4 separate regions of the Homo sapiens genome follow, and regions 1, 2 and 4 are each linked to region 3. The links come from fine-mapping of genetic effects on gene expression. A gene starts in region 3. Each other region holds a variant in brackets. All regions are shown on one strand. Distances are between the middles of the regions. Region 1 overlaps MYH7B (myosin heavy chain 7B). Region 2 overlaps GSS (glutathione synthetase). Region 3 holds the start of GGT7 (gamma-glutamyltransferase 7). Region 4 overlaps ACSS2 (acyl-CoA synthetase short chain family member 2).

Evidence for each region. PIP is the estimated chance that this variant, and not a neighbour inherited with it, causes the effect. A credible set is the group of variants that fine-mapping cannot tell apart.
Region 1: its variant is the best candidate, but not a certain one, in a credible set for the expression of GGT7 in unexposed skin (GTEx, PIP 0.57).
Region 2: its variant is the best candidate, but not a certain one, in a credible set for the expression of GGT7 in lung (TOPMed, PIP 0.61).
Region 4: its variant is the best candidate, but not a certain one, in a credible set for the expression of GGT7 in whole blood (INTERVAL, PIP 0.54).

What each region holds. Positions count from the first base shown.
Region 1 is chr20:34,994,786-34,997,528 of GRCh38, forward strand. MYH7B (myosin heavy chain 7B) reads left to right here. Exons shown (of 45, transcript NM_020884.7): 28 at 551-793; 29 at 1,561-1,737; 30 at 1,828-1,973; 31 at 2,298-2,388; 32 at 2,466-2,743. Among named protein-coding and RNA genes, the nearest start is that of MIR499B, 5.7 kb to the left of the region's middle. The variant C/T (reference allele first, on the strand shown) is at 1,701.
Region 2 is chr20:34,947,694-34,950,193 of GRCh38, forward strand. The region is part of intron 2 of GSS (glutathione synthetase); the gene reads right to left. Among named protein-coding and RNA genes, the nearest start is that of GSS, 6.9 kb to the right of the region's middle. The variant C/A (reference allele first, on the strand shown) is at 1,401.
Region 3 is chr20:34,871,182-34,873,924 of GRCh38, forward strand. GGT7 (gamma-glutamyltransferase 7) reads right to left here and starts at 1,675. Exons shown (of 15, transcript NM_178026.3): 1 at 1,466-1,675. The coding sequence starts at 1,634. RefSeq lists a silencer at 1,557-1,846.
Region 4 is chr20:34,921,259-34,924,001 of GRCh38, forward strand. It overlaps ACSS2 (acyl-CoA synthetase short chain family member 2), which reads left to right. Exons shown (of 18, transcript NM_018677.4): 11 at 72-204; 12 at 286-342; 13 at 528-608; 14 at 2,065-2,173. Among named protein-coding and RNA genes, the nearest start is that of GSS, 33 kb to the right of the region's middle. RefSeq lists an enhancer at 1-781. The variant T/C (reference allele first, on the strand shown) is at 1,059.

The DNA.
Region 1 (2,743 bases), 120 kb after region 3:
AGAGCAAGCTTTCCTGCCTTCGGCACATGGCTTTGTGTATCAATTGTGTGCCAGGCTCAGGCTAGTGCAGGAGGAACGTTGGTGGGAAGACAGAGATGGCCCTGTGGTCACAAAACTCACCTGCTAGTGCAGGAGACTGTGACGCAGCTGGACAGTAAGGAAATGGGGGGTAAGGATACCTGAGCCCTTCCAGGGACTGCCTCCAGGAGCCCGTCCGTGGCTGTGCAGAGGCTGCTGCTGCTCACCCTGCCCCTCGGAAGGCCTCAGCCCAACAGCGGGGCAGTGAGCAGCGGGCTTCCCTCTCAGAACCCTTGTTTGGGCCTCACTCTGGGCCGCCCCGCACTTCTAACTTTCCCCTCTTAATGCTCTGGTGTGTCCCTCTGCGCTATTGCCCTTCCATGCCCAAGAGCGAGTCAAGACATTCCTGAGTTCTCAGAGCACAGCCAAACTTTGCTACAGAGGCAGTTTCCTCTCCAGGGCCTGGCCTGGTGTCTCTCTGCTGGTTTACCTGGCCCTCCCCCAACCTGGCCCCGTTCCGTGTGCCCTCCAGGAGCAGGACAACCTGGCAGATGCCGAGGAGCGCTGCCACTTGCTGATCAAGTCCAAGGTGCAGCTGGAGGGGAAGGTGAAGGAGCTGAGTGAGCGGCTGGAGGATGAGGAGGAGGTGAACGCTGACCTGGCCGCCCGCCGGCGCAAGCTGGAGGACGAGTGCACGGAGCTCAAGAAGGACATTGATGACCTGGAGCTGACACTGGCCAAAGCTGAGAAGGAGAAGCAAGCCACTGAGAACAAGGTGTGGGCCGGGCCAGCTGTGGGGAAGGGCCCTGAGCCAGGGGCCAGCTTTGGGGCCAGGTGGCTGCAGGTCCCACCCCGGCTCTGCTAAGCCTCTGCTTTCTGGCCCTGGGCATGTCACTGCCTTTCCTGGGCCTCAGTTTCTTTATCTGTCAAGTGGGGTTAGCAGCACTTACCCCATTAGGGTAGGTGGTGATGTGTGTAATTGGCCTTTACTGAGCACACGCTCCTAGGCCTTGCACACGGTAGGTGTTTAGCACATGCTGGCAATCCTCATCCATCCCGGAGTGCAAGCCCCTTGAGGGCAGGAACTCCATGTCCCCAGCTCGGCATCCCGCAGGTGACTTCTGCCCTTGAGCCCTCGTGATGGCCCCTGTGGTTCCCAGTGCTGGAGGAGGGACTCCATTACACAGGAGGGAAAGTGAGGCAGGGGTAGGCAGCTTAGGTTCTCACAGGTGCTCACTGAGGAAGCCGGGACTAGGAGGCAGCTGCCCTGAGCACATGCTAATACTGCACATGGCTGGCATCTGTGGATTTCTCACCAGGCCAGGTGTGGTGCTGAGCACTGCGGGTGCATCCACTCGTGAATCCTCATTACAACCCCATGAGGAGGGTCCTTCCCTCAGGCAGAAGCGGTGGAGGCTCGGAGTCAAGTGACTTGCCTGAGTCCCATAGCTGGAAGGGGCACTTGCTCTGACCTGGTGTGGTGTGGTGGCCGCTCAGAGTGCGGGGAAGGGCGTCCCCATTCTGGCCCTGGCCCTGGCACAGGTGAAGAACCTGACGGAAGAGATGGCTGCGCTGGACGAGTCAGTGGCCCGGCTGACCAAGGAGAAGAAGGCGTTGCAGGAGGCCCACCAACAGGCCCTGGGTGACCTGCAGGCCGAGGAGGACCGTGTGAGCGCGCTGAC[C/T]AAGGCCAAGCTCCGGCTGGAGCAACAGGTGGAGGACGTGAGTCAGGGCCACCCCGAGACTGGGTGGCGGGGCCGGGGTGCCGGCTGGCTTGGGCCATGGCTGACCCCTGCTGTGCCTGCTCTGCAGCTGGAATGCTCCCTGGAGCAGGAGAAGAAGCTGCGCATGGACACGGAGCGGGCCAAGCGCAAGCTGGAGGGTGACCTGAAGCTGACGCAGGAGTCGGTGGCTGATGCTGCTCAAGACAAGCAGCAGCTGGAGGAGAAGCTCAAGAAGTAGGTGTGGTGGGGCAGCAGGTGGGGGCCTTCTGAGCCTGCACCTGGCCCTTGTTCCCTTCTGGATTCTTGTGGTTCCTGCGGCATTGCAGAGGTTAAGGGTGGGGGTTGACAGATGGGGCACTGGGGTGCAGGGGTAGTGTCTTGCCCTCCCTGTACTGAGGGCCCTAGCCAGGGTCCAGGGCTGAGGCCTCAGGGCCCAGTGCAGCAGGTGCATGGGGTGAGGTCCCTCAGGGCCTGAAGGGGACTGGGGGGCGTTATGGGGTCCCAGGCGGGTGGGTGGGAGTTAAGGCCTGTGCTGGCCACCCACTCTGTGGCTCCCAGGAAGGACTCCGAGCTGAGCCAGCTGAGCCTGCGGGTGGAAGACGAGCAGCTCTTGGGGGCCCAGATGCAGAAGAAGATCAAGGAGCTGCAGGTGCGTGGGGATCGGGTGGGTGAGGCCTGGGGTCAGAGGCCCACAGAGGTGACAGCTGCCCCACGTGCCCACCCCAGGCTCGGGCGGAGGAGCTGGAAGAGGAGCTGGAGGCAGAGCGGGCAGCCCGGGCCCGCGTGGAGAAGCAGCGTGCAGAGGCGGCGCGGGAGCTGGAGGAGCTGAGCGAGCGGCTGGAGGAGGCAGGCGGCGCATCCGCGGGGCAGCGCGAGGGCTGCCGCAAGCGGGAGGCGGAGCTGGGGAGGCTGCGGCGGGAGCTGGAGGAGGCGGCGCTGCGGCACGAGGCCACAGTGGCGGCACTGCGGCGCAAGCAGGCGGAGGGCGCGGCGGAGCTGGGGGA
Region 2 (2,500 bases), 76 kb after region 3:
TCATTATTTTTAATTGCTGTATATTATTCTACTCTTAGGATATACCATAATTTATTGAATCTAGTATATAGGTGGTTTCTTTATTTTCCTATTACCATTAATGTTTCAATGGGTATCCTAGAATATACATTCTAGATATTTTCATATATGAGAAAGTCCATACATTCTAAATTTCTAAAAGTAAAAATATCAAGTAATTCAGGTAAATCTATTTTAAATTTTGGTAGATAATTTCTAAATTACCCTTCTCAGCATCTTTTTTTTTTTTTTTTGGAGTGGGGTCTTACTATGTTGCCCAGACTGGAATACAGTGGCTATTCATAGGTGCCATCATAGTGCACTATAGCCTCAAATTCCTGGGCTCAAGCAATCCTCCTGTCTCAGCCTCCCCAGTAGCTGAGACTGCAGGTGTGTACCACTGCCCTGGCCTCAGCATCTAAGATAAAACTGAGGAAGGCTATTTGTGAGAATAAGGTTTATTCAGTCTGAAGCCTTTATGAGTTAGAATGGGAATGACTGCAGATTACATAAGGGGTGACCTAATACCCTGAGTAGCTATGTGATGACTACAGGAGCATTTCCTTGGCTTGAACACATAGAGCTCTGCTGCCCCCAACAAGTCTCATCTTGGCCTCAAAAACTCAGAGTTTTTCTGCTAAGACATCCCTCTGCCTCTGTCCCAGGGCTCATTATGCCCTCCTGAATTTAGGATCAATAGTTTATAGCTGTTCTCTGCTATCTACAGGCTAAAGGCTGAAACACACAGTCTTCTCACTTTTGATAGAGACATTAACATAAAATGACATTACTGGCCGGGCACGGTGGCTCATGCCTGTAATCCCAGCACTTTGGGAGGCCGAGGCGGGCAGATCACAAGATCAAGAGATCGAGACCATCCTGGCCAACATGGTGAAACCCCATCTCTACTAAAAATACAAAAATTAGCTGGGCGTGGTGGCACACACCCGTAGTCCCAGCTGCTCTGGAGGCTGAGGCAGGAGAATCGCTTGAACCCAGGAGGCAGAGGTTGCAGTGAGCTGAGATCGTGCCACTGCACTCCAGCCTGGCGACAGAGTGAGACTCTGTCTCAAAAAAAAAAAAAGAAACATTTTTCTACTATTTAAAAAAACCTATAGCACGTGCATGACAAAATTCTGCTTTGTAGCCAGGAAGCAACAGGGAGTGATAGGAATTGTGGCAAAAAGAAGTACTTGCATCTTCTCTAAAGGGGGCAGCCAGAACTCTGCTCTAGCCAATTGTTGCCATGCAGGAAAGTAGGCCAGAGTTGCCAGATGATATAATTTTTCAAGACAAGTTGGGTTGCTAGATTTTTTGTTTTAATTTCATGATTTTTTTTTTTAAATGTTGGCTCTGACTTTTTAAAAATACTCTGGTGAAAA[C/A]AACTGTTAACAATGCTTGCCCCTGGTCAGGGAAACAGTGGCTGGAGGAAGGGGACTTACTCTGTACTGAATACCCTTTTGAATTTTGCGCCCTGTTCAAATGTATTTGAACGTATTACTTATTGTAAAAAACAAATTAACTCCCCAAACACTGCAGGAGCCAAATACTCAGCCTAGATATGGCTAGTTTGCAGCTCTGATCTACAGGATAAAGTTCATACTCCTCCTCCACCCAGTAGCTAAGGCCCCGCGGCTGTCTGACGCTGGCCTGCCTTCTTTCCCACTATATCCACTTATGCGCCCTGCATTTCAGCTGCATTCTCTTGAACATTTTTTTTTTTTTTTGCCTTTTCCTACTTTTGGGTCCTTGCTATGCTGTTCCTTTTCCCTATTTGTCTTTTAAGGTCTAGTTCAAATACCACCCCCCATCTCAATCATCTAATCATAATGAACTACTCTTTCTTCCAGCTGTCCTATATAGTATCTTGGGAGAGGAAAAAAAGCATGGATGTTCAGAGCATGGACTCAGGAGCCAAATTCCTTGGGTTCACATCCTGGCTCTGCCAATTATTTTACCATTTAAATAACCTCAGGTAGGTTACTTAGCCTCTCTGGGCTTCGGTTTCCTTATCTCTGTTGTGGTGAGGAGTCAGTGATTCCAAAGTGTTTAGAATAATGCCTGGCACATACTAAATACTCAATAAATGATAGTTAACTTTGTGTAGCAGACTGCCTGTGTTTCCTCATAGAGCTGATGTTATTTAATTTTGTTTTGTGGTATGTTCTCTAACTAGACCAGGAGCCCCAGAGGCTAGGGCTCTGGCTGACTCACCTCTCTGTCCTCAGTGCCTACAATGGCCCGGCATAGAGCAGGCATTTGGTAAAGATTTGGAGTAAAATCATTCTCTCTCTCTCTCTCTCACACACACACACACACACACATACACACACACGTACACTTTCTGACTTTTTTTCTGGATTAGAAATCTCATTGTGGATTACGCCTTTTCTAGGCTCCATAACCTCCCAGAAAGACCAAGTGTTGGATCTTCACATGGTACCTATTGATTAACAGAAGAAACAAAAGCGTGGAAGAGAAA
Region 3 (2,743 bases):
TAGATTTTGGTAAATGCTAAGACATTTACAGAGGGCCAGAAGAAAACATGTCAGGCAGTTCCAATCTCTAGGTCAAGAGAGACAGGCATTCTCTGTTGAGCTGGAAGAGGAAACTAAGGCCCAGGACAGGGTAGGTGTGCCTGTTGTCGCTTGGTGAGTCAGGGCTGTATTAGGACCAGAAGTCTCACTCCTGACTACTGAATAAAAGGCCTAGCTTCAGGCTGATATCCATCATGACACATCTTCCCACTCCTCTCCCTGCTACCTCCTGATTCCACTCCCTTTGGAAAATAAGTTTTGATCCGCAGCCCTGACATTTGACGCCCATAAACCTCTAAACTCCATCTTCATTATCTCCTCACCCCCACCCCATACAGAGTGCAGTCCAGTCAGGTTGGCAAGGGCTGCTGGTCAGGGCCAGATGACCAGAAAGTGTAGAGGAGGAGAGAATTTGGGGCTTTCAGGCTGGGAGCAGCTAGGGAAGGGCCAAGCCGGAAAAGCAGCATCTGCCAGGCTGGTAAGAGACAAGGCTCAAGTGCAGGCACTGCGAGGAAGCGAGAGTGAGGTAGAAGGATGCTCTAATGCCAGGAAGTGACGTGCAGGGACAGAGGGATGGGGGATGAAGGATGAAGAATGGAGGGGAGGATGAAGCTGGGCCACATGGCTAGGAGGAAGAGCAGCAGGGAAGGAATGCACAGAGAGCTCTTTGCCCCCAGGTCTCTTCCAATCCCTGTCTCCTCCTTCTCTTACCCCCACTTCTCACAATTCCAGCAGAGGGCTGAGGGGAACACAGTAAAATTCTGGAGACTGCTTCCTAGGGAGCAGAGTACCTTACTAATACCCCGGCCAGATCCATGGCTCAGGGAGGGGTGGGGTAATCCACAGGAGAGTGAAGGCGTTCTAGTCCCCAAGGACTTTTGAGAGGTCATGCAGTCCATGCCTCCGTCTCCCAACACCCAACAGAGGGGAATCATATTCTCTTTACCCCTCCCTAGACATGAAGAGATTCTCCGCTTCTCCCAGACCCTCTGCTTCTCACAATCCCTGGCTGTGGGGAACTTCTCTTAAGGCACAGATTGGATCCCTCTTGCTGCAGTCTCTGACTTGGTTTCTCCTATCCTGTCCTCTGTGGCTAGAGAAAGCCCTCTTCTGGGTGATCACAGCGGTTCCTTAGGATCTCCCCTTCAACATTCCTTCATCGTTAGTTGGTTCTTCCCAGAAGGTAAGCCCAATCCCTTCTACTGCAGTCCCTAGCATCCTCTCCGTTGTCGCATCCTACGCCTCCAAGGCAGAAATGCACCCCCTTCCTCACCAAATAATTAACAGAGACAAGGGAGAAGAAGGGAGAGATCCAAGAAGATGGGGATGAATTAAGGAGATGGAGCTGGAGGTGGATGCTTGACACAGAAGAAGGAAGACCGGGGACTTCCCAAGGCAGGGCAGGGACGGGGTCAGCGGGCCTCACCGGTGTCGGGGTCTCCCAGAAAGGCGTCCTCGTCCTTGCGGCCCCTCAGCGGGGCCGCGGGCGCCGGCTCGTCCTCGGGCAGCCGCGGGAAGCTGGTGATGCTCATGTAGTCCACTGGCGAGTAGGCGCCCAGGGCGCTCTCCTGGCTGGCCTCGTTCTCCGCCGCCATCCTCGCCCGCGCCCCCCAGCAGCGCAGCGCCTGCCGGAAGTGGCTGCGGCGGGGGAGTGGGAGGGCGGAGGGCGGGGCCTGATCTTCGCGACAGCCGGGAGGGGGCGCCTCTCCCAGCCCTCGGCCGTGTCCCGGTCTGACTCGCCCCCGTCTGCTCAGCGCTATCAGCCTGCAGCTGGCACACAGGTGCGTGTAGATGGACAGCCAGGAAGGCAGCGCAGGGTCGAGGGGAGAGCGCGGGGCAAGCGAGACTTCAGTGGCTCTGCACTTTACGCAGCTCAGGGACCAAACCCCTTCCTCCTTCCAGCCTGAATACAGCTAGTGTCCTCCTCAAATCCCAGGCTTCCTTTTCGGGCCCCAGACCCTTTCACTGACCGCAAATCCCTCTCGACCCCAGATCCTGTCTCTGACCCCAAACTCCTCGGACCCCAGACCCCTCCTTGAATTCCGAGATCCTCCTCCTCCGATTTTAGACTCCTCCTCCGACCTTAGACCTCTTTTTCGACTTCAGACTCTGTCTTCACCCCCAAACCCTTTTGAAAACCCCAGCCCATGCTTCATCTCCAGGCCTCTTTGACTGCAGACGCCTCTTTGGACAACAGATCCCTCCTCTGACCTCAGATCCCTTCCCGCACCCCGACACTTCTGACTCCTCTTTCAACCGCATTCTCAAACTTTAGTGTGTGTTAGGATCTTTGAAAGCGGATCCCCAGATTCCACTCCAGAGATCATGATTCAGTAGGCTGGGATGAGGTCCTTGGAACCTGAATATTTACCATCATTTTAAGAGTTTTTGATGTGGTTCTGGAAAGGACACTTTGAGAAAGAAGGAGTGGTGGTAGTGATGGTAGGGCAGGAGTGGGGCAAGGTGGGGAATAGGTCTCCATATTCTGGATGTCTGGGTTCTATTCTGCCACCGCTCAAACACTGTGTAATCTTGGGCAAGACAATTAGTCTCTCTATCAGTTTCCCCATCTGTGAAATGGAAAGAATAATAGTACCCATTTTAGAGGGTTGTCATGAGGATTAAGTAACAGAATGGAAAGCGATTAGTATAGGGCTTGGCACCTACTCAATAAATGGCATCATCATCATCATCATCATTGCCT
Region 4 (2,743 bases), 50 kb after region 3:
GAGAAAAGCCTGGGTATGTGTGTCTTCCAGTAGTACTCAGAGCCTTCCTCTCTCCCATTCCCCTGCCCCAGGCATAGCCGGGCATCCTTGCAGGTGTTAGGCACAGTGGGTGAACCCATCAACCCTGAGGCCTGGCTATGGTACCACCGGGTGGTAGGTGCCCAGCGCTGCCCCATCGTGGACACCTTCTGGCAAACAGAGACAGTGAGTGAAGGGTACAGAAGGCTGGGGCCCAGGGACAATGTGGGAAGATTGACTCAAATTTCTCATCTCTGACTTCCCCAGGGTGGCCACATGTTGACTCCCCTTCCTGGTGCCACACCCATGAAACCCGGTTCTGCTGTGAGTGATGCTTCCCTGGCTGGTCTTGGGCTAGGCAGGGATGGTGTCTTGGGGCACTTGGCCTAGTTAGATAGTGGAGAACTGGACTGACATGTGTGAAGAATTTGGGGTTCTGGGGCCCCTTGGGAGTTGAGTCAGAGTTGCCTCATTCCTCTTCTTGGGTTCTGTCTCCCGTTTGCTTCTAGACTTTCCCATTCTTTGGTGTAGCTCCTGCAATCCTGAATGAGTCCGGGGAAGAGTTGGAAGGTGAAGCTGAAGGTTATCTGGTGAGGCCCTGGCCCTTGGGAGTCTTTAAGGAGAGAGGGAAAGGGTCTGCCAAGGGTACTTTGCTTTAGAGTTAATAACCTAATCTCTCCTGGTAGCTGCTTAGGACTGAAACTTCATGGTTGGAGGTTTGCTCACTGAGAGACCCTGGAGGGGACCCTCGATACTTTGCCTGCATCTCTTCCTTTTGGGCCATAAGTCTCCTAAGGGCGTTTTAAGAGTTGCTCAGATTCCTGATGGTACCTTTTTGGGTCTGGAAGACTAAGTCCCATCTTCTTTTGACAAAGATTCTACAGAAAGGAGGCTTTATAACATAGTAGAAAATCACGTAGGATCTGGAGTCACCCTGCCTGGGTTCGAATCCTAGCTCTGCCTCTTCTGTGACCTCAGATAAGTTATTTAACACCTCTGAATCTACATTTTCTAATTTGTAAAATAGGGTTAAAGTGGTG[T/C]CTCTGGCCGGGCACGGTGGCTCACACCTGTAATCCTAGCACTTTGGGAGGCTGAGGTGGGCGGATCACCTGAGGCCAGGAGTGCAAGACCAGCCTGGCCAACATGGTGAAACCCCGTCTTTACCAAAAATACAAAAAGTAACTGGGCGTGGTGGTGGACGTCTGTAATCCCAGCTACACGGGAGGCTGAGACAGGAGAATCACTTGAACCGGGGAGGTGGAGGTTGTATTGAGCCGAAATTGTGCCATTGCACTTCATCCTGGGCAACAAGAGCAAAATTCCGTCTCAGAAAAAAATAATGCCTTTGTCTCCTATGGTTGCTTGCTTGATTGAGTTAGATAATCCACATGAAGGGGTTAGCAGAGAAACTAACAATTAGTACTTGATAAACATTAGCTGTTGTGATTATTGTATTCATACTTGCAGGAGCCTCACCTGTCCCTTCAACCCCACCCCATTTCACTTTCCCAAGAGCAAGTTAGTAACAGGGACAGGGCTTACATCCAGGCCTTCTGACTCAGCCTAGAATTCCATCCATTCCATCGATCTGCTGCCAAAGAATGTTACTGATTGGGCAATAATTATTTACTTGGTGTGTGGGCACCACTGTTTTTTAAATGAGTGTTTTCATTTGTATCAAACTGGACCTGCTTTCCTCAAGGATTGCCCAAAAGGAGACACAAATTTACTAAACACTTATCAATAATAGAACACCGTGCTAGGCAATTTCCATATACTATTAATTTAATCCTCACAATAACTTTGGAAGACAGAAAGTATTTTCTCTGATTTACAGATGAGGATCCTGAAGCTCAGAGGGGTAAAGTTACTTCTCTGAGGTCACCTAGCTAGTAAGTGGTAGAGCTGGGATTCCAAGCCAGGATCCTCTGTCTCCAAAGCCTGTACTTCATTCAGGACACTTTCCCCCACATTTAGAAAAGCTGTAATTATCTTCCAGTGAGACAGCATAGCAAATGTGATCACTGTCCCTTCCTCACTCCCCAGGTGTTCAAGCAGCCCTGGCCAGGGATCATGCGCACAGTCTATGGGAACCACGAACGCTTTGAGACAACCTACTTTAAGAAGTTTCCTGGATACTATGTTACAGGAGATGGTGAGCCTTAGCTATCCCCCTCTTGCACCTCCCACTAAGACATGTACCTTCCACTTCCATTTTCAGGAAGAGTTGGTGTGTTGCTATAAAATAATACCTGAGACTGGGTGATTTATAAAGAAAAGAGGTTTATTTTGGATCATCATTCTTCAGGCTGTGCAGGAAGCATGGTGCTGGCATCTGCCTATGGTGAGGCCTCAGGTAGCTTCCAATCACGGCAGAAAGCAAAGGGAAAGCCAGTGTTTGACATGGCAAGAGAGGAAGCAAGGGAGAGAGGGAGGAGATACCAGCCTCTTTTAAACAACCAGATCTTACATGAACTCATAGAGTTACTGCAAGTACAGCACCAAGCCATTCATGAGGGATCTGTCCCCCCCGCCCCCCCCACCTCCCCGGCCTTGACCAAAACACCTCCCACCAGGCCCCACCTCTAACACTGGGGATCATATTTCAACATGAGATTTGGAAGGGACAAACATCCAAACTATATCAGTTGGTTAGGGGTAAAGAAAATTAGAGAAGAATGTGTCCTACATGTCAGTATCTGGTTTCTACGCAGAGCTACAAAGA